Regions from separate parts of the Homo sapiens genome. Here regions 1, 2 and 3 are each linked to region 4. The links come from fine-mapping of genetic effects on gene expression. A gene starts in region 4. Each other region holds a variant in brackets. All regions are shown on one strand. Distances are from middle to middle.

What was found.
Region 1: its variant is fine-mapped to the expression of CXCL16 in whole blood (INTERVAL, PIP 0.98).
Region 2: its variant is fine-mapped to the expression of CXCL16 in macrophages (Nedelec 2016, PIP 0.95).
Region 3: its variant is fine-mapped to the expression of CXCL16 in whole blood (INTERVAL, PIP above 0.99).

Annotation. Positions count from the first base shown.
Region 1 is chr17:4,693,869-4,698,868 of GRCh38, forward strand. The region is part of intron 1 of PELP1 (proline, glutamate and leucine rich protein 1); the gene reads right to left. Among named protein-coding and RNA genes, the nearest start is that of PELP1, 7.8 kb to the right of the region's middle. RefSeq lists enhancers at 1,345-1,514, 2,708-2,777, 3,407-3,576, 4,485-4,654. The variant T/TA (reference allele first, on the strand shown) is at 2,139.
Region 2 is chr17:4,765,912-4,772,126 of GRCh38, forward strand. TM4SF5 (transmembrane 4 L six family member 5) reads left to right here and starts at 5,975. Exons shown (of 5, transcript NM_003963.3): 1 at 5,975-6,188. The coding sequence starts at 6,012. The variant A/G (reference allele first, on the strand shown) is at 3,817.
Region 3 is chr17:4,675,050-4,680,049 of GRCh38, forward strand. It overlaps PELP1 (proline, glutamate and leucine rich protein 1), which reads right to left. Exons shown (of 17, transcript NM_014389.3): 6 at 1,704-1,763; 7 at 1,308-1,458; 8 at 987-1,113; 9 at 748-835; 10 at 225-313; 11 at 30-146. Among named protein-coding and RNA genes, the nearest start is that of PELP1, 27 kb to the right of the region's middle. The variant A/C (reference allele first, on the strand shown) is at 2,488.
Region 4 is chr17:4,736,631-4,742,864 of GRCh38, forward strand. CXCL16 (C-X-C motif chemokine ligand 16) reads right to left here and starts at 3,298. Exons shown (of 6, transcript NM_001386809.1): 1 at 2,631-3,298; 2 at 2,152-2,290; 3 at 1,778-1,860. The coding sequence starts at 2,709. ZMYND15 (zinc finger MYND-type containing 15) reads left to right here and starts at 3,203. Exons shown (of 14, transcript NM_001136046.3): 1 at 3,203-3,420; 2 at 3,889-4,510; 3 at 4,952-5,186; 4 at 5,285-5,440; 5 at 5,701-5,861. The coding sequence starts at 3,919. RefSeq lists enhancers at 1,811-2,716, 2,717-3,621 and a silencer at 3,170-3,389.

The DNA.
Region 1 (5,000 bases), 43 kb before region 4:
AAGAGGGGACTATTGCATAAAAGGCCATAAATAGGAATGAAGTTTTAGCCGGGCACAATGGCACCCGCCTGTAGTCCCAGCTACTTGGGAGGCTGAGGCATAAGAATCACTTGACTAATCCTGAGAGTTTGAATCCAGCCTAGGCAACACAAGACCCAACACAGCAAAACAGAAAAGAGTAATAAAGTCTTGACACATGGATGAACCTTGAAAACTGACTGCTAAGTGAAAGAAGCCAAACCCAAAGGCTACATATTATACAATTCATTTCTATCAAATGGCCAGAATAGGCAAATCTCTAAAGAAAAAAAGTAGATTACTGTTTGCCTAAAGCTGGAGGCAGCCAGGGAGGGCTTGGTGGGCAATGGGAATGACTGTAAGTGGGTACAGAATTTCTTTATGGAGTGATGAAAATGTTCCAAAACTGAGCACAGCAATGACCGCACAACTCTGCAAATATACTAAATCCACGGAATTGTATACTCTAAGTGAGTGAACTGTGGCCGGGCGCAGTGGCTCATGCCTATAATCCCAGTACTTTGGGAGGCCAAGGTGGGCAGACCACCTGAGGTCAGGGGTTTGAGACCAGCCTGGCCAACATGGTGAAACGCCATCTCTACCAAAAATACAAAAAAAAAAAAATCAGCCAGGCGTGGTGGCAGGCGCCTGTAATCCCAGCTACTCCAAAGGCTGAGGCAGGAGAACCGCTTGAGAACGGGAGGCGGAGGTCGCAATGAGCCAAGATCGTGACACTGCACTCCAGCCTGGGTGACAGAATGAGACTCCACCTCAAAAAAAATAAAATAAAATAAAAATAAAATGGGCCGGGCGCGGTGGCTTACGCCTGTAATGCCAGCACTTTGGGGGGCCGAGGCAGGTGGATCATGAGGTCAGGAGTTCAAGACCAGCCTGGCCAACATGGTGAAACCCCGGCTCTACTAAAAATACAAAAATTAGCCAGGCGTGGTGGTGGGCGCCTGTAATCCCAGCTACTCGGGAGGCTAAGGAAGGAGAATCGCTTGAACCTGAGAGAATCGCTTGAACCCGGGAGAATCGCTTGAACCCGGGAGAATCGCTTGAACCCAGGATGCAGAAATTGCAGTTTGCCAAGATTGCACCACTGTACTCCAGCCTGGGTGACAATGTGAGACTCCATTTCGAAAAAAATAAAAGGCCAGGCACCGTGGCTCATGCCTGTAATTCCAGCACTTTGGGCAGCCGAAGCGGGTGGATCACGAGGTCAGGAGTTTGAGACCAGCCTGGCCAACATGATGAAAACCCGTCTCTACTGAAAAATACAAAAATTAGCCGGACATGGTGGCGGGCGCCCGTAATCCCAACTACTAGGGAGGCTGAGGCAGGAGAATCGCTTGAACCCGGGAGGCAGAGGTCGCAGTGAGCCGAGATCACGCCACTGCACTCCAGCCTCGGCAACAGAGTGAGACTCCGTCTGGAAAAAATAAATAAATAAAATGGCTAAATTGTATGGTTTGTGAATTATTTCTCAATAAAGCTGTTTTGGCCAGGCACGGTGGCCTATAATCCCAAAATTCTGGGAAACCAAGGCAGGCGAATCACTTGAGGCCAGGAGTTCCATACCAGCCTGGGCAACACAGAGAGACACCATCTCTACAAAAATTTTTAAAAATTAGCCAGGTGCAATGGCATGCACCTGCAGTCCCAGCTACTCGGGAGGCTGAGGCAGAAGGATCGCTTGAATCCAGGCGTTCAAGGCTGCAGTGAGCTATGAACACACTACTATACTCCAGCCTGGGCAAAAGAGTGAGACCCTCTCTCTTAAAAAAAAAAAAAAAAAAAAAAAAAATCTGGCAGGGGGCAGTGATTCACGCCTGTAATCCCAGCACTTGGGGAGGCCAAGGTGGGCAGATCATTTGAGGTTAGGAGTTTGAGAACAGCCTTGCCAACGTGGCGAAACTAAACATCTAAAAATCTACTAAAAATACAAAAATTAGCCAGACGTGGTGGTGTGGTTTCACCATATTGGTCAGGCTGGTCTCCAACTCCTGACCTCAGGTGATCCGCCCACCTTGGCCTCCGAAAGTGCTGGGATTACAGGAGTGAACCACCATGAACCCCCGCAGTAAAGCTGTTTTTATAAAAAGGCATACTGATAACCA[T/TA]AAAAAAAAGAGTGTTCCAGGAAAAGAAAAAAAAAAAAAACAGGCTGGGCAAGGGGCTCATGACTGTAATCCCAACACTGGGAGGCCAAGGCAGGAGGATGGCTTGAGCCCAGGAGGTCAAGATCAGCCTGTGCAACCGAGGGAGACCCCCATTCTCCACAAAGAATTTTTAAAAATTAGCCGAACATGGTGGAGGGCACCTGTGGTCACAGCTACTTGGGAGGCTAAGGTGGGAGGGCTGCTTGACCCCGGGAGGTCAAGACTGCAGTGAGCCATGATCGCCACCACTACACTCCAGCCTGAACAGCAAAGCAACATCCTGTCTCAAAAAAGAAAAATAAAAAGAGCGAAGACTATGAGATGAGAGCATACTTCGTTATTTCCAAAGAACAACAAGGAGACAAATTGTTGATGGAGAAAAGTGAGCAAGGTGGAGAGGAGTAACCAATGATGAAGGTTAAGGGAGTGGGACCAGACTGTGCAGAGACATATAGGTGATTACCGACTTTCACCCTGAGTAAGATAAAAGCCACGAGGGGGAGAGAGAAATTGCGCACAGGAGTGACAATATCTGACTTCTGGTTTGCTTTTTGTTTTGCTTTGTTTTTAATCAACAGCATTTGTGTTGTCTTGTTGAGAAGGCAGAAGCAAACAGATGAGGTAGAAGGTTACTGTAATATTCCAGACAAATGATGATGCAGCTTGAAGAATGTGGTAACTGTGGCGATACAAAGCAGTCAAAATCAGGAAGTACTGTGAAGGTAGAGCCAACGGGATGTGCCGTCAAACTGGATATGGGTGGAAAATAAAAAGAAGGGTCCAAGATAATGCCAAGGTTTTTTGCTGAACAACTAGAAAGATGAAGCTGCCATTCACCGAGAAGGGAACTAATGCAGGAGGAGCAGGTTTTGGGGTGACAATAGGGAGCTCAGTTTCAGATCTGTTCAATCTGTGATGTGTATTTAACATGAAAACGGAGATGCCAAATAGGCACCGGCTAGACAAGTGTGAAGAGAACTTCTGGCTGGAGATGTAAACTCAAGAGGTGTGGGCCTTGAGACTGGATCAGTTCACCAAGGGAATAAGAGTAAAGAGAAGAGAAACAGTGCAAGGCCTGGGTTGTAGGCACTCAAACCTTCAGAGGTCACAGAGGTGAGGAGGGATCAGTCTTTACTGGAAAGGAGTAACCAGTGTGATAACAGGAGAATCGAGAGGAGAGGAGAGGGGCTGGGAGGGTGACTAACGCCTATAATCCCAGTACTTTAGGAGGCTAAAGTGGGAAGACTGCTTGAGCTCAAGAGTTCAAGACCAGCCTCAGCAACATAGCGAGACCTTGTTTCTACTAAAAATCAAACAGATTAGCTGGGTGTGGGGGCACACACCTGTGGTCCCAGCTACCCAGAAGGCTGAGCAGGGCGGACTGCCTCAGCCTGGAAGATCAAGGATGCAGTAAGCTATGATCGCGCCACTGCACTCCAGCCTGGGCAACACAGCGAGACCCTGTCTCAATGAAACAAACAAACAAAAACAAAAAGACAGGGGAGAGATATCCCAGAAGTCAAGTGAAGACAGTTTTTTAAATAGGAAAGTATAATTAACTGTATCAAATGGTAGCGATAAGTCAAATATGATGACCCAAATTGACCTTTGAACTTAATGTCTTGATGGACACCAGTGATCTTCAAGAGTTACCATTTCACCCAGCAAAGGGTTGTTTCGGCAGCATTTAGGCTAAAAGCCTGAATGTAATGAGTTCAACGGAACAACCATCATAGTAATAATTCATTCAGGGAAGAACCTTTAATAGATGTTAAAATGAGTGGGTGAAAGGTTGACAAGACCTAAGACATTCACATTATCTCCCCCCAAGACACTTAACTACAAATGGAAAAAAAAAAAATCATACCTTTATAACAGTGAAGAAATCTGGCAGAGACCTGCTTAACCTAGAATACGTGCTCCTGATGTGATGCACCAAGAATGACACATCATTTCTGCAAGGTTTTTTTTTTTTTTTTTTGTAGAGATAGGGTCTTGCCATGTTGCCCAAGCTAGTCTTGAACTCCTGCACTCAGTGATCCTCCCACTTCGGCCTCCCACTAAGCCTCTGAATCTCATGCTGGGATAACAGGCATGAGCCACTGCACCTGGACGACTTCTGCAGTATTCTTGCTGAAAACGCACAAATCTCCAGTTTAATTTGTCTGCTGTTTCCTCATGATTAGATCCTAACCTGAGGGGCATCCTACGAAATAACTATTCTGTACTCTTTAAAAATATCAAGATCATAAGACAAAGGCTGAAGAACTATTTCAGATTAAAGAATACTAAAGAGACATTATAACTAAAAGCAAGCTGGGCGCGGTGGCTCACGCCAGCACTTCGGGAGGACAACGCGGGTGGATGATCTGAGGTCAGGAGTTCGAGACCAGCCTGGCCAACATGGCGAAACCCCATCGCTACTAAAAAAAAAAAAAGAAAAAAAATTAGCCAGGCATGGTAGCAGGCGCTTGTAATCCCAGCTACTTGGGAGGCTGAGGCAGGAGAATCGCTTAAACCCAGGGGGCGGAGGTTCCAGTGAGCCAAGATCATGCCACGGCACTCCAGCCTAGGCAACAGACTGAGATTGTCTCAAAAAAAAAAAAACAAGGCAAAACAAACAACAACAAAAAAAACAACTAAATGCAACATGTGATCCTGCATTAAATCCTGGACTAGAAATGTTGTTGTTGTTGTTGTTGTTATAATGGATGCCTTTAGGAGAACTGATGGCAAAACTTAAAAAAGATCTGTAGGTTAAATAATTTATTGTACCAATATTAATTCTCTGATCATGATGATAGAGTATGATTATGTAAGAGA
Region 2 (6,215 bases), 29 kb after region 4:
CAAAAAGATTAGACAAGCATGGTGGGTGGTGAACATCTGTAGTCCCAGTTACTTGGCAGGCTGAGGCAGGACGATCACTTGAGCCCAGGAGATAGAGTTTGCAGTGAGCCAAGATCATGCCACTGCACACCAGTCTGGACAACAGAGTGAGACACTGTCTTTAAAAAAAAATGAGACTGGGCACAATGGCTCTGGCCGGGTTGTGGTGGCTCATACCTGTAATCCCAGCACTTTGGGAGGCCAAGACAGGTGGATCACTTGAGGTCAGGAGTTCAAGACCACCCTCCAACATGGTGAAACTTAGTCTCTACTAAAAATATAAAAATTAGCCAGGCCTGGTGGCCCATGCTTGTAATCCCAGCTACTTGGGGGGCTAAGGCAGGAGAATCGCTTGAACTCAGAAGGCTGAGGTTGCAGAGTCAAGATGACGCCACTGCACTCCAGCCTGCATGACAGAGCAAGACTCTGACTCAAAACAAAAGAGAAGAAAAATATTTTTTTCCAAAATGTGCATCCAGTTTTGTAACCAGATATATGAAATTTATTTAGACTTACGTCAAGACTTCCCCATTTTGGGGTTTTTATTTTACTTCATCTCTTGGTGAGTCAACACAATTTCTCTAAAAAAAAGGAGCCAAAGTGTTATTTTGAAATCCAAACATTCTCAGAAATGCAATTGTGTTGCCCTTAACATACAAAATGCAACTTAGACATGTATATGATAGTTCTACCTTTTTTGGTGGACACAGCTGCCTTACTCCTTTGTCCTCTGACATTCAGTATTTCAGAGAAGACTCTGGCCACACCAACTATTGTTTCTTTCTAAGTAGCCTTTTTAAATTCTGCCTAGATGTATCCTTTAATTCAGATATTTTGTCAGGATGAATCTATGGTCAGCTGACTTTTAATATTTTACCTGCCGTGCAGTATAACTTTCAACCCACTGACCTGAGTGGATCTATCTGCGCTCAGTGACGTCTTCTCCTAGTGCAGATGTTTTAACTGTGGTGTCACTTCCACCAGTTCTATTCTTGTTCTTAGGAGAAGCCAGTTTCCTGAATTTTTTTTTTTTTTTTTTTGAGCCAGAGTCTCACTCTGTCACCCAGGCTGAAGCGCAATGGCGTGATCTTGGCTCACTGCAATCTCCACCTCCCGGGTTCAAGCGATTCTCCTGCCTAAACCTCCTGAGTAGCGGGGATTACAGGCACCCGCCACCATGCCCAGCTAATTTTTGTATTTTTAGTAGAGACGGGGTTTCCCCATGTTGGTCAGGCTGGTCTCGAATTCCTGACCTCAGGTGATCTGCCCGCCTCGGCCTCCCAAAGTGCTGGGATTACAAGCGTGACCCACTGAGCCTGGACCTTTTTTTTTTTTTTTTTTTTGAGATGGAGTCTTGCTCTGTTGCCCATACTGGGGTGCAATGGTGCGATCTCGGCTCACTGCAACCCCCACCTCCCGGGTTCAAGCGATTCTCCTGCCTCAGCCTCCTGAGTAGCTGGGATTACAGGTGCCTGCCATCACACTTGTCTAATTTTTGTATTTTTTGTGAAGATGGGGTTTCGCCATGTTGGCCAGGCTGGTCTCAAACTCCTGACCTCAGGTGATTCACCGAGCTTGGCCTCCCAAAGTGCTGGGATTACAGGCGTGAGCCACCGCGCCCGGCCAGCCTTTTCTTTCTTAAGTTATTCTGTTCCTAGTTCCAGGAGAATTCTAGTGATGTCATCAAAAATCTTCCTGGAAATCTCTTCCAAATCCTATAGTAAATGTTCCTCCAGAGGATTCTGTTTCTTTCAGTCTTCAGGTTGATTTGCCCTTCCCTGGTTTTGAGAAAATTTTTCAGAATCCCTATAATGTTTTGTTAACATTATTAACATTATTTCATTCATCCAGAATTGTATAAAAATAATGTAATGAATGCCTGTGGACCACCCCACCCACACAACTATTTTTTTTCTCTTTATTCATCCTCAAAACAGACACCATTTGGCTGGCCGCAGTGGCTCACACCTGTAATCCCAGCATTTTGGGAGACCGAGGTGGGTGGATCACCTGAGATCAGGAGTTCGAGAGCAGCCTGGCCAACATGGAGAAACCCTGTCTTCATCTCCACAAAAAATACAAAAATGAGCCAAGCGTGGTGGCGGGCACCTGTAATCCCAACTACTTGAGTCTCCTGAACCCGGGAGGCGGAGGTGGCGGTGAGCCGAGATCACGCCACTGCACTGCAGCCTGGGCAATAAGAGTGAAACTCTGTTTAAAAAAAAATAAAAAAGAGGCACCATCTCTCAGAATCAGCTTGAGCAACTTGTAGACAAATAGGTGGCCAGCTCTTGGCCCTGCTCTCTGTCCATCAGATCAATGGCTGAATCCCCTCTTCAGGTCCACGGTTGGAAGGGCCACTATTCGGGATATGACAGTTGCTCTGGTAGTTCAACATTAGTGCTGGTGACAACCTCTCATCGGCCACCTCCTGAGGAACCAGAGTTTTCCAGTGCCTGTGCTTCTCCCTCTGGCGCTGTTTCAGAGTAACTATTCTCCATACACTTCTCTTGCTGTGACTTCTGCTTATTTCTGGTGTCAGTTGCCTCTGGCTTTTGATTGCTTCTTTCTTGCATACAACTCTCAGTTTGAAGCCACCCCACTCTCTGATGACTGTCTCAGCTTGTCTCACAGACACATTTCCCAATCATGAAGATCCAGTCGGTGGATTGGTCATTATCCAGTCAGTGTACCTCTGTTGGATGGAGTTCTCACCTCGAGAGACCTCACAGGTCGCTGGCTACATGTCTGCCTTTGGGTCAGCTACTTGTTCCTCAATCAACCAGCCCTGGCCTAGATAAGGGGGTCTGTGTTAGGAACTTGTTACTGGGCAACAAACCATCCCCCTCGACGAAGTCTTAGTGTCAAATAAATATAAGCATTTATTTCACTGATACACACATAGGAGTTGGCTGGGGGTCAGGTGATCTAGGGTGGGATCCAATGTGACCCTTTTCCTTGTATCTTTTTTTTTTTTTTCTAGATGGAGTCTTCCTCTGTCACCCAGGCTGGAGTCCAGTGGTGCAATCTCGGCTCACTGCAACCTCCATCTCCCGGGTTCAAGCAATTCTCCTGCCTCAGCCTCCCGACTAGCTGGGATTACAGGTGCCTGCCACCACACCCAGCTAATTTTTTTTGTATTTTTAGTAGAGACAGGGTTTCACCACGGTAGCCAGGATGGTCTCGATCTCCTGACCTCATGATCTGCCCACCTTGTCCTCCCAAAGTGCTGGGATTACAGGCGTGAGCTACTGCGCCCGGCCAAAAGAAATTTTTTAAATTAGTTGAGTGTGGTGGTGTGGGCCTGTAATCCTGGCTACTAAGGAAGCTGAAGTGGGAAGACAGCTTGAGCTAGGAGGTCATAGCTGCAGCGAGCCATGATTATCTTACCATGGCACTCTAGTCTGAGTGACAGAGACCCTGTCTCAAAAAAAAAAAAAAAAGGATAATGTAAAATCTTTAAAGAAAAGGGACAGAGGCTGGGCGCAGTGGTTCATGCCTGTAATCCCAGCGTTTTCGGAGGCCGAGGCGGGGATCATCTGAGGTCGGGAGTTCGAGACTAGCCTGGCCAACATGGAGAAACCCCGTCTCTACTAAAAATACAAAATTAGCTGGGCGTGGTGTCGCATGCCTATAATCCCAGCTACTCGGGAGGCTGAGGCAGGAGAATTGCTTGAACTTGGGAGGTGGAGGTTGCAGTGAGCCATGATCGCACCACTGCACTCCAGCCTGGGCAACAAGAGCAAAACTCTGTCTCAAAAAACAAAAAAGAAGAGG[A/G]ACAGAAAACATCAGAAGCAATATGGAAATGTTGTTTAAAGCATTAAACATGCCAACAGAAGCAAAACCAAATGTATCAGTCATCATAATTACCTATGAGTCAGAGACAAATAGTTGGGGAGGTTCAAAGTATTTTCTTTTTCAGGCATCCTCTGATTCAAGAGGTAAATTCTCCATGTATTTTTCTCAATCCAGTTCCTCTGTCTTATAAATAGCAGAGATTCTGGCTTTTCTCCATTTTCCACATTTCTGTAGTGGTCTGAGTGGGCCGCAAGGAGGGGCTGCATCAGGGGCCACTGGCTGGTGACACTTTCCAGGTGACAGCCTCATTGCATACCCTCTGAAGCCCTGCAGCCCTTCCTGCTACCCTCATCTCTTCATGGCACTCCCACATCCTACTTGAGCTAGGGCTCATTCTGTGGGGGCCTTCACTCTCCTGTTTGCTTCTGAGACCCAGGAGGCAGAGGTTGCAGTGAGCCGAGATCACACCACTAAACTCCAGCCTGGGTGACAGAGCAAGACTCCATCTCAAAAAAAAAACAACAAAAAACCATTAGCCAGGTGTGGTGGCACACACCTATAGTCCTAGCTACTCGGGAGGCTGAGGTGGGAGGATCACTTGAGCCCAGGTGGTCAGGGCTGCAGGGAGCCATGATCCACTCCACACCAGCCTGGGCAACAAAGGGAGACCCTGGTCTCAAAAACATTTTTTTAATTAAAAAAAAAAGAAGTCGACTGGGTGGCTTGGCTCATGCTTGTAATCCCAGCACTTTGGGAGGCTGAGGCAGGTGGATCATTTGAGGTGAGGAGTTTGAGACCAGCCTGGCCAACATGGTGAAACCCCGTCTCTACTAAAAATACAAAAATTAGCTGGGTGTGGTGGTGGGCGCCTGTAATCCCAGCTACTTGGGAGGCTGAGGCAGGAGAATCGCTTGAACCCAGGAGGCGGAGGTTGCAGTGAGCCAAGATCACGCCACTGCTCTCCAGCCTGGGCGGCAGAGTGAGACTCCGTCTCAAAAAAAAAAGAAGTTATCAAGGAAACTGCAGCACCCCAACAAAAACAGAACTTCTTTGACCTCAGAATGGAAAAATGGCAGAAGCTGATTCTCACAGAGTTGGCTCAGATCGCATGGCTGTTGCTAAATCAAACACCGAGGCTAGCAGGATAGAACGCTCTCATCAATGAGGCCTAGGTCCCGAGCCCACCCTGAGAGACAGGCAGTGGCCTCAAGAGGAGGAGACATCAATAATCAAATACCAGGAAGACGAAATGCAAGGACAATAAGAGCCCACAATCACCTCTTTAATTTCTCCCTGGGAAGAATGCTGCCTGAGAGGCTGGCAGAAACGAAGAGGCCACCACACATCTGCTCTGTGCTTCCTAGTTTACAAAATACTTCTCAGGTTGTCCCATTTAATCCTCACAAGTAGCCCACAAGGCAAGTGGCATCACTTATTTATTTATCTATTTATTTATTTATTTATTTATTTACTTTTTGAGACAGAGTTTCATTCTTGTCACTTTATTTACTTATTTATTTATTTTTCGAGACAGAGTTTCACTCTTGTCACCCAGGCTGGAGTGCAATGGCACAATCTCAGCTCACTGCAACCTCCACCTTCCAGGTTCAAGTGATCCTCCTGCTTCAGCCTCTCGAATAGCTGGGATTACAGGTGCCCGCCACCATGCACAGATAACTTTTGCATTTTTAGTAGTGACGGGGTTTCACCACGTTGGCCAGGCTGGTCTCAAACTCCTGACCTCAGGTGATCCACCCTCCTCGGCCTCCCAAAGTGCTGGGATTACAGGTGTGAGCCACCGTGCCCAGACACAAGTGGCAACTGAGACTTAAGAGACATGAAGGGGCTTGGCTAAGTTGCAAAGCAGGTATGGAACCAACAGAGGGGCTGTGGAGCTGTGCAGAAAAAACAGGAAGGCACTAACCCAGGGTAATGTGTCCATAGCCCCCACCTTGTCCAGCACCACATCCTCCCTTCACCTCAGGGCTGCAGCTCCTCCGCCTCTGCCTCCTCAGGGCCCACATCCTGTGCCTCTCTCCCTTATCATTCTGATCCTGCCAGTTTCTGCCACGCCTCTGTCTGAACTTTGCTCCGTGCTCCAGGCTTGTTTTCCTCTGGACCTGGGAACCACTGGCTTACTTTCACTCACCGCCTGTCCTTCCTGACACCTCACCATGTGTACGGGAAAATGTGCCCGCTGTGTGGGGCTCTCCCTCATTACCCTCTGCCTCGTCTGCATTGTGGCCAACGCCCTCCTGCTGGTACCTAATGGGGAGACCTCCTGGACCAACACCAACCATCTCAGCTTGCAAGTCTGGCTCATGGGCGGCTTCATTGGCGGGGGCCTAATGGTGAGAAGGCTGGCAGGGGAGCCCGGG
Region 3 (5,000 bases), 62 kb before region 4:
ATTCCCTTCCTGCCTTCCTGGATGGTCACCTGTAAGGCCTCTCCTGGCCTGGAGAGAGGGAATCTCTACCGATGCTCCAGGAATTGAGGACCTGGGGAAGCAGGCGGCCGATCAGGATCCCAAAGCGCAAGAGCCGGCTTCCACACCTGGGGCAGAGAAGGAATGGTGACCCTCGTTTCTGGCACGCCCTATCCCTTCACCACAGCCAGCCCAATCCCACTCACGCGAGGATGAGTGCAGACAGCAGGTCCAAGGCCTCAAGGTGGATAGAGGGCAGCAGCAGCAGCCGCAGGGGACCATCTCCATGCAAGCTCTGGAGAAAAAAGGGGCAGAGATAAAGAGTGGAGGAAGAAAGTGAGAGCCAGAGAGAGACAGAAACAGGGAATGACCATTTACATATGTACACATAGGTAAGAAACCCAACCCCTGATCTCAGCTCTCCCAACAAAATCAAACCCCTATCCTCTAAAATAGACCCTGGATGGAAGGTAAGAAGGATGGCTGGGCCTCTCAGCAATGACTCAGCTGATCCCCAAATTCACCCTCCCCCAAGGAAGCATTTGCTACACTCTGACACTGTGCTCCTGTGTCACGACACATAGGAAGTGATGTTATTTGGACAAAAGTAGGAAGCTCTCTGGGACGACTCCAGGATGACACTGTTTGGGGAGACTCAGGTCCCCAGTACTTTCCTGGTTGCCTGGTATCCTGAGCAAGGGCTCTGAAGAGATGACAAATCCCACTTACAATATTCTTGCTACTGACGCTGAGGGTCCGGCAGATGAAATCCAGGATTTCCTGCACAGGGACGGACACGGGAGCTCCAAACTCAGAGCTAAAGAGAATCAGAGCAGGGAGACCTTCAGAGCAGGCTCCCTGGCATAACTCCCACACCCACCTTCATCTCCTTTCTCCTGATGAAGGCGACACTCCCTCATCAATCCCTCCTGCTCCACGCCTCCGCTCCCTCCAATACCCACACACACCTGAGCATGAGCCCTAGGCAGCGGGCCAGTCCCGAAAACCTCTGCCGAAGCTGGAGAAGGACATGGGCATCACCATCTTCTGAGGACAGCAGCATCTCCACCCCAGGGCCTTCATTCTGCACAGGAGCTGGCAGAAGCACAACTACCCTGTACACTGTCTTTCTTCCATCCCCTCCTCTGTCATTTCTGGTGGACGACCTGCCTGTATTCTAACCCATTTTCCCCAAAAACCAACTGCCCCATGTCTCTGGGCTCCCCTCCTGTTCCTTCCTGCCACGCTTCCTCACTATTGTTCCACTAACTAGCAGCCCTGGTCCCTACCAGTCTCTGCTCCCTCGTACAGGGCCCCCAGCAGGGTGTGCAGTGAGGCCAGCAGACTGTGTAGCTCCTGCTCCCAGCTCTCGGTGTGCTTCAGGCCTTGGGAAAAGCCAGCCCCTAAAGAGGGCAGCCGGGAATAACACTCACAGGCCAACTGCGGGAGAAAGGACAGAAACCTGGTCAGATGGGAATCCAGCCCAGCCACAGAACCCCCAGCCCCACTGACACCCAAAAGAGATGGAGATCAGAGAGAGCTCTGAGGGAAACCTGAGATGGGACAATGAGGCCGAAGGACACAGATGGGCATATGAAGGCAGGACAGAAAAGCTAGAGGAGGAGCAGCAAGAGACAATCCAGGCTCAGATCCCCGGGCTCTCCCTCTCCCTCCCTGCCCTTTACCTGTTGGAGCTGAGGGCTCAAGGCATCCACCCTAGACAGAAAAAATGAGGCCAGCTTGCCCTGGATGTGGAGGAAAAAAGGAAGAGGCCAGTGAGCCAGCTCTGAGAGCCAGAGATGTACATCCCATCCGTTCCCAGCAGCAGACTCTAAGCCCAGGTCTCTTTTTCCTGTAGACACAAGAAGCAAAGCCCTCTATGGGGCATCAACACCGGGCACGGACATGCTTTCATGGTAAAAGACTCCTCAACGCCAGCTCTGGTCCTCGGCTTCCTGCTTGGGAGCGAAAAGGGCCTGGCCCTGTCCCAGAGACAGCTGGGCTTCCTCCTTGACAGTTTTTGCAAAATTTTTCCCTCAAGCCAAAAGGACATAGTACTAAAAAACAGTCTCCACACTCCAACTCTCTACCAGCTCACACACAAAAACGAGGGTCCAAGCTGGAAGTTAAGACACTAACCAGAGGTATGAGGGCAGGACAAGGTCAAAAAAGAAGGCTGCTAGAGCAGAAGTAAGGCAGCAAGTCTCGGAGTAGCAATCTGTCATTCGGCACTTTCTCTGCCTGCTGTGTGAAGGTGCTAGGGCAGGAGTGTTTAACCTGAGAACCACAATTTAGTTGGATATACAATCATAGGGGGCCTGTGATCATGGATGGGGAAAAAAATTACTCCCACTAGCCTATTTGTAAAATGTAGTGTTTCCTTCACTTATAAATGCAGACAAATAGCCACAGTAGTATCAGCAGTACCTGTGACTGTCACTAATAGAATCATTTTCATGTCACATTATA[A/C]TTGTAACACATCCTGAAATATCATTCACATGCATCACTAATTTGCAATTATAGTCGTTGTAAGACCTGCTTCTAGATCTTATTACTTAACATGTCAATAAAAAAGCACAGGCTGGGTGCAGTAGCTCACGCCTGTAATCCAGGCACTTTGGGAGGTCAAGGCAGGCGGATCACTTGAGCCAAGGAGTTTGAGACCAGTCTGGGCAACATGGAGAAACCCTATCTCTACTAAAAATACAAAAACTTAGCCGGGTGTGGTGGCGCATGCCTGTAGTCCCAGCTACTTGGGAGGCTGAGGTGGGAGGACCACCCAAGCCCAGAACCGAGATCATGCCAGTCAGTGTACTCTAGCCTGGGTGATGAGAGTGAGACCCTGTCTCAAAAAGAAAAAAAAAAAGGCCAGGCACGGTGGCTCATACCTGTAATCCCAGCACTTTGGGAGGCTGAGGTGAGCAGATCACGAGGTCAGGAGTTCAAGACCAGCCTGGCCAACATGGTGAAACCCCATCTCTACTAAAAGTACAAAAATTAGCTGGGCACAGTGGTGGGCACCTGTAATCCCAGCTACTTGGGAGGCTGAGGCAGGAGAATTGCTTGAACCCAGGAGGCGGAGGTTGCAGTGAGCCGAGATCACGCCACTGCACTCTAGCCTGGGTGACAGAGCAAGACTCTGTCTCAGAAAAAAAAAAGAATTAGTAAGGATAACAAGACAAGCATATGGAAAAACAAGAATCTGGAGCCAACACTGGCAACATACAGAGAAGGGGAAAGAGCAGGCTCACGCTTTCCCCGAGACATCCTAGTGGTGCACACCTGTAGTCCTAGCTACTTGGGAGACTGACGTGGGAGGATCACTTGAGCCCAGGAGTTCAAGGTTACAGTGAGCTACAATCTTAACACTGCACTCCTGGGTCACAGAGCGAGACCCTATCTCCAAAAACGGCTCAAAAAGCTGGACTGAAGCCAACAGAAGTCTGCTTATGTGACTGCAATAAAGCAGTGTACGGTGAAGCGACACGGCTCTAACCACAGGTTACCCTGGCTGACCCACAAAGCAAACCAAAGCAATGACTCGCTTGGAACAGTTCACTCAAAACGCGCACACACACAGCATGTCCTGGGGCTCTCTCAAGAGTAGGTCAGTCTTCCCACCCATTCCGAGGAACTGCTCATCAATGTGGCAAGGACGAGGAAGTGAGTTCAAGTCTCTGCAGGAATTGACCTCATGGACTCAGAATGCTTGATTCACATTACTTGGGAGTAGTAATCCTGAGCTTGGAGTCTACAATTACCCTGAGAGTATCCGGGGAATGTAACAGAAAACACAGACACTTCAAAACGGCAGTTATCAGTTTTCCTAAGTACTAGTCTGCGAGATTTTCCAAGTGCAAATTGCCCCTGGAGCCTCTGCATGACAGATTCTTATCTGAAGTGCTGGCAACCGACAAAGCCAAAACCCTCAACACCCTCAACAGAGGGAAGTTCTCCAGATGACCTTTTTTTTTTTTGAGACAGGGTCTCACTCTGTTACCCAGGCTAGAGTGCAGTGCCACGATCTCAGCTCACTGCACCCTCTGCCTCCCAGCTTCAGGGGATCTCCTGCCTCAATGTTCTAAGTAGCTGGAACCACAGGCACACACCACCACACCCAGCTAATTTTTTTGTATTTTTGGTAGAGGTAGGGTTTCACCATGTTGGCCAGGCTGATCTCAAACTCCTGGCAGATGGCACTTGATTCTTAGGGAAATAAAGGTAAGACACTCCCTGGAAGGACACAGGAACATTTGTTAGTTTGGAAAGGGTACTCAAAATGCAGGCCTTAAGTTCAACTGTCTGACAAAAGGTTGAGAATTACAGATAAATTCTCCTGACTACTCACACTGAAAATAAAAAAGCAACAGCAGAAGAACACTTAGCATTCTAGTCTCCTTAACTCTTACTATTCACACTTCTATCCTGTTAAGTAACACTCAATTTCCCCTCCACTTTCATGGGGGATGCAGGTAGATAAAGATAATACCTAACAGAGCTGAATCAAAATACACTTTTGCAGTAAAACCAAACCTTTGTTCAGGGACAAACTGCTGGCCTGTGTCATTTGAGAGGTTAACTTACAGAACATTTGACAAGATAACCAGTTTTTACTAAACTTAGTAAAACCTCAGTAAATAACCTCTGCTAATCTTTAATAAAATCGATGAGTCACTCCAAATACCTTCTTGACAAAATGTCCTGCCCTGCCTACCCAAAGATTCTATTAGCTGTGATTAGAGGCATTCACATGAAAAGAAGGAACCAGCAAGGACACAACCCCTCGCTCACTCAGAACTAGCATCTGCTCAGGCACTTTTCAGATACTGCGAGTAACCAGTTACTAACGACACTGCAGGCATCACTCCCTGATCACAGCGCTCAGGCCGATGGAACTCTGACTCACAGTCCTTCCCAGGCCAGCGAGCTACACAGCCACTAACAATTGACTAGAGCTGCTACCTGCCCTGGTTTTACAATTA
Region 4 (6,234 bases):
TCCTGGGAGGATGAAAGGAAATCATAGAGGTCTAGGCAGACTTAAAGGCAGTATGGATGACACAGATCCTACAAAACTTTAGCTAGGACATGGAAGAACCTTTTGTATTTTAATGGTTGTATATTTATTTTAAGAGAAAAATATAACCAATGCATCAAACTTGTGACTTCACAGATATTATTGCTTAGGATAATTTACTATTTAAGTTTTCTTTCTTTTTTTTTGTTGCCCAGGCTGGAGTGCAATGGCCTGATCTCGGCTCACTGCAACCTCCGCCTCCAGGTTCAAGTGATTCTCCTGCCTCAACCTCCTGAGTAGCTGGAATTACAGGCACATGCCACCATGCCTGGCTAATTTTGTATTTTTAGTAGAGATGGGGTTTTACCATGTTGGTCAGGCTGGTCTCAAACTCCTGACCTCAGGTGATCCACCGGCCTCAACCTCCCAAAGAGCTAGGATTACAGGAGTGAGCCACCGTCCTGGCCTCTACTTAAGTTTTCAAAACTAGTTTGTGCACACTTAAAAGTAATTCATTTCATTGTATGTAAATTTGAACTCAAAAGAAAAAAAAGCATTAAAATATTGAACTCTACTTAATATACATGCTGAAATGTCTTGGGATGAAGTGCAATGATGTCCACAATCTGCCTTGAAATGCATCAAGAGGCCGGGCACTGCGGTTCACACCTGTAATCCCAGCACTTTGGGAGGCTGAGGCAGGTGGATCACCTGAGGTCAGGAGTTTGAGACCAGCCTGACCAACACGGTGAAACCCCATCTCTACTAAAAAAATACAAAAATTAGCTGGGCATGGTGGCGGGCACCTGCAATCCCAGCTACTCGGAAGGCTGTGGCAGGAGAATTGCTTGAACCTGGGAGGCGGAGGCTGCAGTGAGCTGAGGGCACCATTGCACTCCAGCCTGGGCGACAGAGCAAGACTCCATTAAAAAAAAAAAAAAAAAAAAAAAAGAAATGCATCAAGAAATAAGGTGATGGATGATGGATAGAAGAATGAATAGATGGATACTTAATAAAGCAAATATCGTGTAATTGCTGTAAAATTGATAGTGTAAAATATATGTTTATGTAAATATGTAAAATATACATATATAAATAAAATTGTAGAATCTAGGTGGAGGCACTGGATATTCAGTGTGCCATTCTTTCAACTTTTGTATATGTGTAAATTTTCATAATAAAATATTGGAAAAGAAAAATAGGCCAGGTGTGGTGGCTCACGCCTGTAATCCTAGCACTTTTGGAGGCCGAGGCGGGTGGATCACAAGGCCAGGAGTTCGAGACCAGCCTGGCCAACATGGTGAAACCCTGTCTCTACTAAAAATACAAAAATTAGCCAGGCTTGGTGGTGCGCGCCTGTAATCCCAGCTACTCAGGAGGCTGAGGCAGGAGAATCTCTTGAACCTGGGAGGCAGAGGTTGCAGTGAGCCAAGATCGTGCCACTGCACTCCAGCCTGGGTGACAGAGTGAGACTCCATCTCAAAAAAATAAAATAAAATAGTACTTTGATTTCAAGAAAAATATTAATAAGTAGACAATAGCACACGTGGTAGAATGAATTGGCAAAACTCATGAAGGTGATGGTGAATGATCACCCCGTTTGGCAAACAGGGACTCGAGTCTAAGTACTTTGGACAGGATCAGAAGAAGGTTCTAGGAATGTGCGGCCCCAGGGGAAAAGGCTCAGGTAAAGAAAACTGTCAGGTGGAAGCTGCTAAGCCCTGGAGGCAGAGCCTGAAGAGCAGTGGAAAAGTCTCACCTTTGAGATCAAGACAGCTCATCAATTCCTGAACCCATGGGTCCTTGTTGCCCCCACACACGCTCCAGGAAAGGAGCTGGAACCTGCGGAGGAGAGACCTGGGCTTAGCTGCGGCGCCTTCTTTCCTTCCCCGGCTCCTTCCTCATTCCAGAGGCGTGAAGTTGCCACCAAGAAAGAGCCCTTTCTCCTGGGACTGGGAAACTCCCCAGTAGGTGAGACGGAGTCATGAAGTTTCGGGGAATGAGAGCAAACGGAACCCGGAGATGGGGCTCGGTGAGCCGGGAAGGAGTTCAGGCTGGACCAGAGAGGGTCCTGGAGGCACCTGCAAGGAGGGGCCGCCCAGGCGCTGCCCTCGCAGAGGCAGGTAAAATTACCTCGTGTAGTATAGACACCGATGGTAAGCTCTCAGGTGTTTCCGGAGACGATTCATGAACTGAACCGATGGCGGGGAGTCGGAAGAAATTCTTTTACCACAATAACAACTTCCAGTGACGCTGCCCTCGTTGCCATTGCCTGCGCGGGACGGAGGTGGTCGGCACCCATTCCCAGGCCCAGGGTCCCCACTCCGCTGTTCCCTGGCATCCAATCCACAGCCCCATGACAGCCTCTCGGTGGACCCAGGGTCAGAGCGCCAGGCTCAACCCACACATCATCACGCCCCCGACAACATCCATAATCCCGCCCGGAGCCAGGCGTCCCCGGGCCTCTGTCCCCAACCCCAGGCGGCTGGCTGGCTTTCCTCTTGTCCCCGCTGCCTTCATCCACTCAACTCCGTGGGCCTCGTGTCCCCTCCCCAACTCACCCCCTTCCCGTGACAGGGGAATCTGGGTCCCCTGCCCCGCCCCCGGCTAACCTGGCTGAGTCAGGTACACCAGCAGGAGCAGAAGCAGGAGCAGGAGCACGCGGGACCCGGGCCGCAAGTCCCGTCCCATCTCGGGGCTCCGCGGACTCTGCGGGGATGGAGCCACCTCGCTCTGACTCCCAGACATGCTCCGGCGCGTGACGTCCAGCTGGTGTCTCAATGGCTTTCGCCGGGGACCGGAGGAGACGGCGGCCGGAGAGGAGGCGCGAGCCAGCTGCACCCCCCGGCCCTGCTGTGCCCCGACCGTGCGCTCAGTACTCGGCCCGCGCCATGCCAGCCTCTGGACGCAGGGAAAGCCGAGGAGGTGGAGCTCCCGCGCCCTGCGCCCCCGCACTGGGCCCGGCTCCGTCGAGGGAAGGCCAGGAATCTTGGAAGAAACCGAAAGAAAACTCCGGCGGCGGGCGAGGAGGGGCGGGAGGACGACGGCCCGAGGAGCCGATTCGGTTCGGTTCAGGAGGCCGCCCGCCTGGCCCGTCCGCCGACCTGTGAGGCGGCTGCACTGCCGGACCGGCCCTCCTCCTCCGAGGCACTTTCACTTCCCCGATCCGGGCGCCGCGGGACCCAGCCGCGCTGCATGAGCCTCCCGGGCGGCCCGGTGGAGAGAGTCGCCGCCAGCCCCGGCCGCGCGCACCTGCGGGGCAGCCACCCGCGGACGCACCGAGCCCGGGGGGCGTGGCCGCCCGCTGAGCCGGCGAGGGCTCGGGCAGCCCTGACGTCACAACCGCACCCGCGCACCCTCCACCGCGAGGTATTTACCTTCGAAAAGTGGTGGCGGCTGCAGGTACCGGAGGAGTGGGGCGGCCGGGAGGGGCTAGGTCTACCGGGGCTGCCCGCCACGCAGATCCGAGCCCAGGGAACCCCCTCGCTCCCACTCCCATACCCCACAGACGCATCCAAAATGCTTCCCTCCCCACCAAACCGTTCCCGATAGGATTAGCCCTCTCTCCTCTCTAGCCTTAATTTAAACTCTGCTTTTGAGGGTGTGAACTCTCCAATTTTAAGCCCCAAATACCATCTCATCCCTGAGTAGTCTTCTCCAACCCTGGTCACCCACTTTCAAGTCCAGCCCCCATTTTCCTCCCTAAACTCCCATCCTCAGCCCTGAAAAATCCTCTTCTCCGCTCCTAGCATATCCACGGATCCAACCCTAAGTGACTCTCAAACCTACCCTCTCCCTCAATTTGTGACCCAGCCCCAAACTCCATCATTGCTCTCCTGTCCCTCACCATATATCCCTTCTTTTGCTCAGTCTGGGCCGGGGCCCTGTGCCGCTGAAGACATGGAGTTTGTGTCTGGATACCGGGATGAGTTCCTTGATTTCACTGCCCTTCTCTTCGGCTGGTTCCGAAAGTTTGTGGCAGAGCGTGGAGCTGTAGGGACTAGCCTTGAGGGCCGCTGCCGGCAGCTGGAGGCCCAGATCAGAAGGCTACCCCAGGACCCTGCCCTTTGGGTGCTCCATGTCCTGCCCAACCATAGTGTGGGCATCAGCCTGGGGCAAGGGGCAGAACCAGGTCCTGGACCAGGCCTGGGGACTGCCTGGCTCCTGGGAGACAACCCTCCACTCCACCTGCGAGACCTGAGCCCCTACATCAGCTTTGTCAGCCTAGAGGATGGGGAGGAAGGGGAGGAGGAAGAGGAGGAAGATGAAGAAGAAGAGAAGAGAGAGGACGGGGGTGCAGGCAGCACAGAGAAGGTGGAACCAGAGGAGGACCGGGAGCTAGCCCCTACCAGCAGGGAGTCCCCCCAGGAAACAAACCCTCCAGGAGAGTCAGAGGAGGCTGCCCGGGAGGCAGGAGGTGGCAAGGATGGCTGCCGAGAGGACAGGGTGGAGAACGAAACAAGACCCCAGAAGAGGAAGGGACAGAGGAGTGGTAAGAACCCAGGGCTGGCCCTGCCCTACCCCTTGCCCAGCCATCCTCCCTTCGGAAGCCCTCCCCTGCCACTAGTTCTGAGTGCTGGCCTTCAGGCCAATCTGGCCTGAAAAGGTGTTTTTATTGACCCACAGTGGGGTTTTTTTTTTTAATTTAATGTTTAAACATTGCAAGAAAAAAAGTATCCAGAAGTCTGGATTTACACATTCCCAAGAAAAATCTCAAGCTCTGACAGTGGGCCTACATTTCTGCATGGCAGCGCATTCTGGTCCTCTGTAGCAGCTGTCCCCTTTAGAAGGAGCGTGCCCTCTCTACCCAGAGCCCTTTACTCAGTGAGGTTACTTGCCTAGCCCCGTAGGTATTTGAGTTTGGTACTCCTGACCCTGACCACATTTGTCTCTCGCTGCCCCCTACCACCTCAACTTTTCCCTCTTTCCCCAGAGGCTGCCCCCCTGCACGTTTCCTGTCTCTTACTTGTGACGGATGAGCATGGCACCATCTTGGGCATTGATCTGCTAGTGGATGGAGCCCAGGGAACCGCAAGCTGGGGCTCAGGGACCAAGGACCTGGCTCCTTGGGCCTATGCTCTCCTCTGTCACAGCATGGCCTGTCCCATGGGCTCTGGGGATCCCCGAAAGCCCCGACAGCTTACTGTGGGAGATGCCCGGCTGCATCGGTATAGAAATCTGGTATCTGAGGCTGGGGAGGACTCGGGCCCTGGATTCCCAAGCACCTCCTCCAGCCTGATGCCATCTCCCCCCCAACTGCATTTAGAGAGCTGGAGAGCTTGGTCCCAAGGCTAGGTGTGAAGTTAGCCAAAACCCCAATGCGGACATGGGGTCCCCGGCCAGGCTTCACCTTTGCTTCCCTTCGTGCTCGAACCTGCCATGTGTGTCACAGGCACAGCTTTGAAGCGAAGCTGACACCTTGGTGAGCAGCCCCAAAGCTGGGGGAGAGGAAGACCCCAATAGGCAAATAGAAGGAAGGCAGGGTGGTGGGGGGCGCCTAGCAGACAGAAGGAGAGGCAGGGACATGAGAAGATGCAGAGGAAACAATACAGACTGTTACAGGCGGTTAGAGGGTGTAAGACAAACAGACCGAGTGACATATGGGCAGCTGCTGGGCAGTTGAACAGCAGACAGGACCTACAGAGGTTAACACTAGGTGCCCACCACCCGCTGTGTCCCCAGCCCCCAGTGTAGTGCTGTCTTGTATTGTGGAGAGGCTTGTCTCCGGGCTGACTGGCAGCGGTGCCCAGATGATGTGAGTCACCGATTTTGGTGCCCAAGGCTTGCAGCCTTCATGGAGCGGGCAGGAGAACTGGCAACCCTGCCTTTTACCTACACCGCAGGTACCATAAGGAGGTCAGAATGGTTGGGGGAAACTGGGACCAGGTCTTTGAGACTGGGAATTAGATGTCTGGGAACAGGGTCCTGCAGTTGAAGGCTGAGTGTCTGGGGCTAGAGCCTAGATCCCTGGAACAAGGGCAGGGGCTGGGTGTTTGGGGCTGGAGACAGGGTCTCTGAAGCCGAGGCCTGAGTGTCTGGGTCCCTGAGAGCGTGCAGGGATTGGGGGACAGGGATTCAAACACTTACTTGCTTCCCAGCTCCACCACTAACTGCAGTGTGACCTTAAACAAACCACTTTACTTCTTGAAGCTTCCGTGTCCTCATGAGGGATACGGAGAAGGCCCATGGAATTGTTACAAGGATTATCTTGGCTTG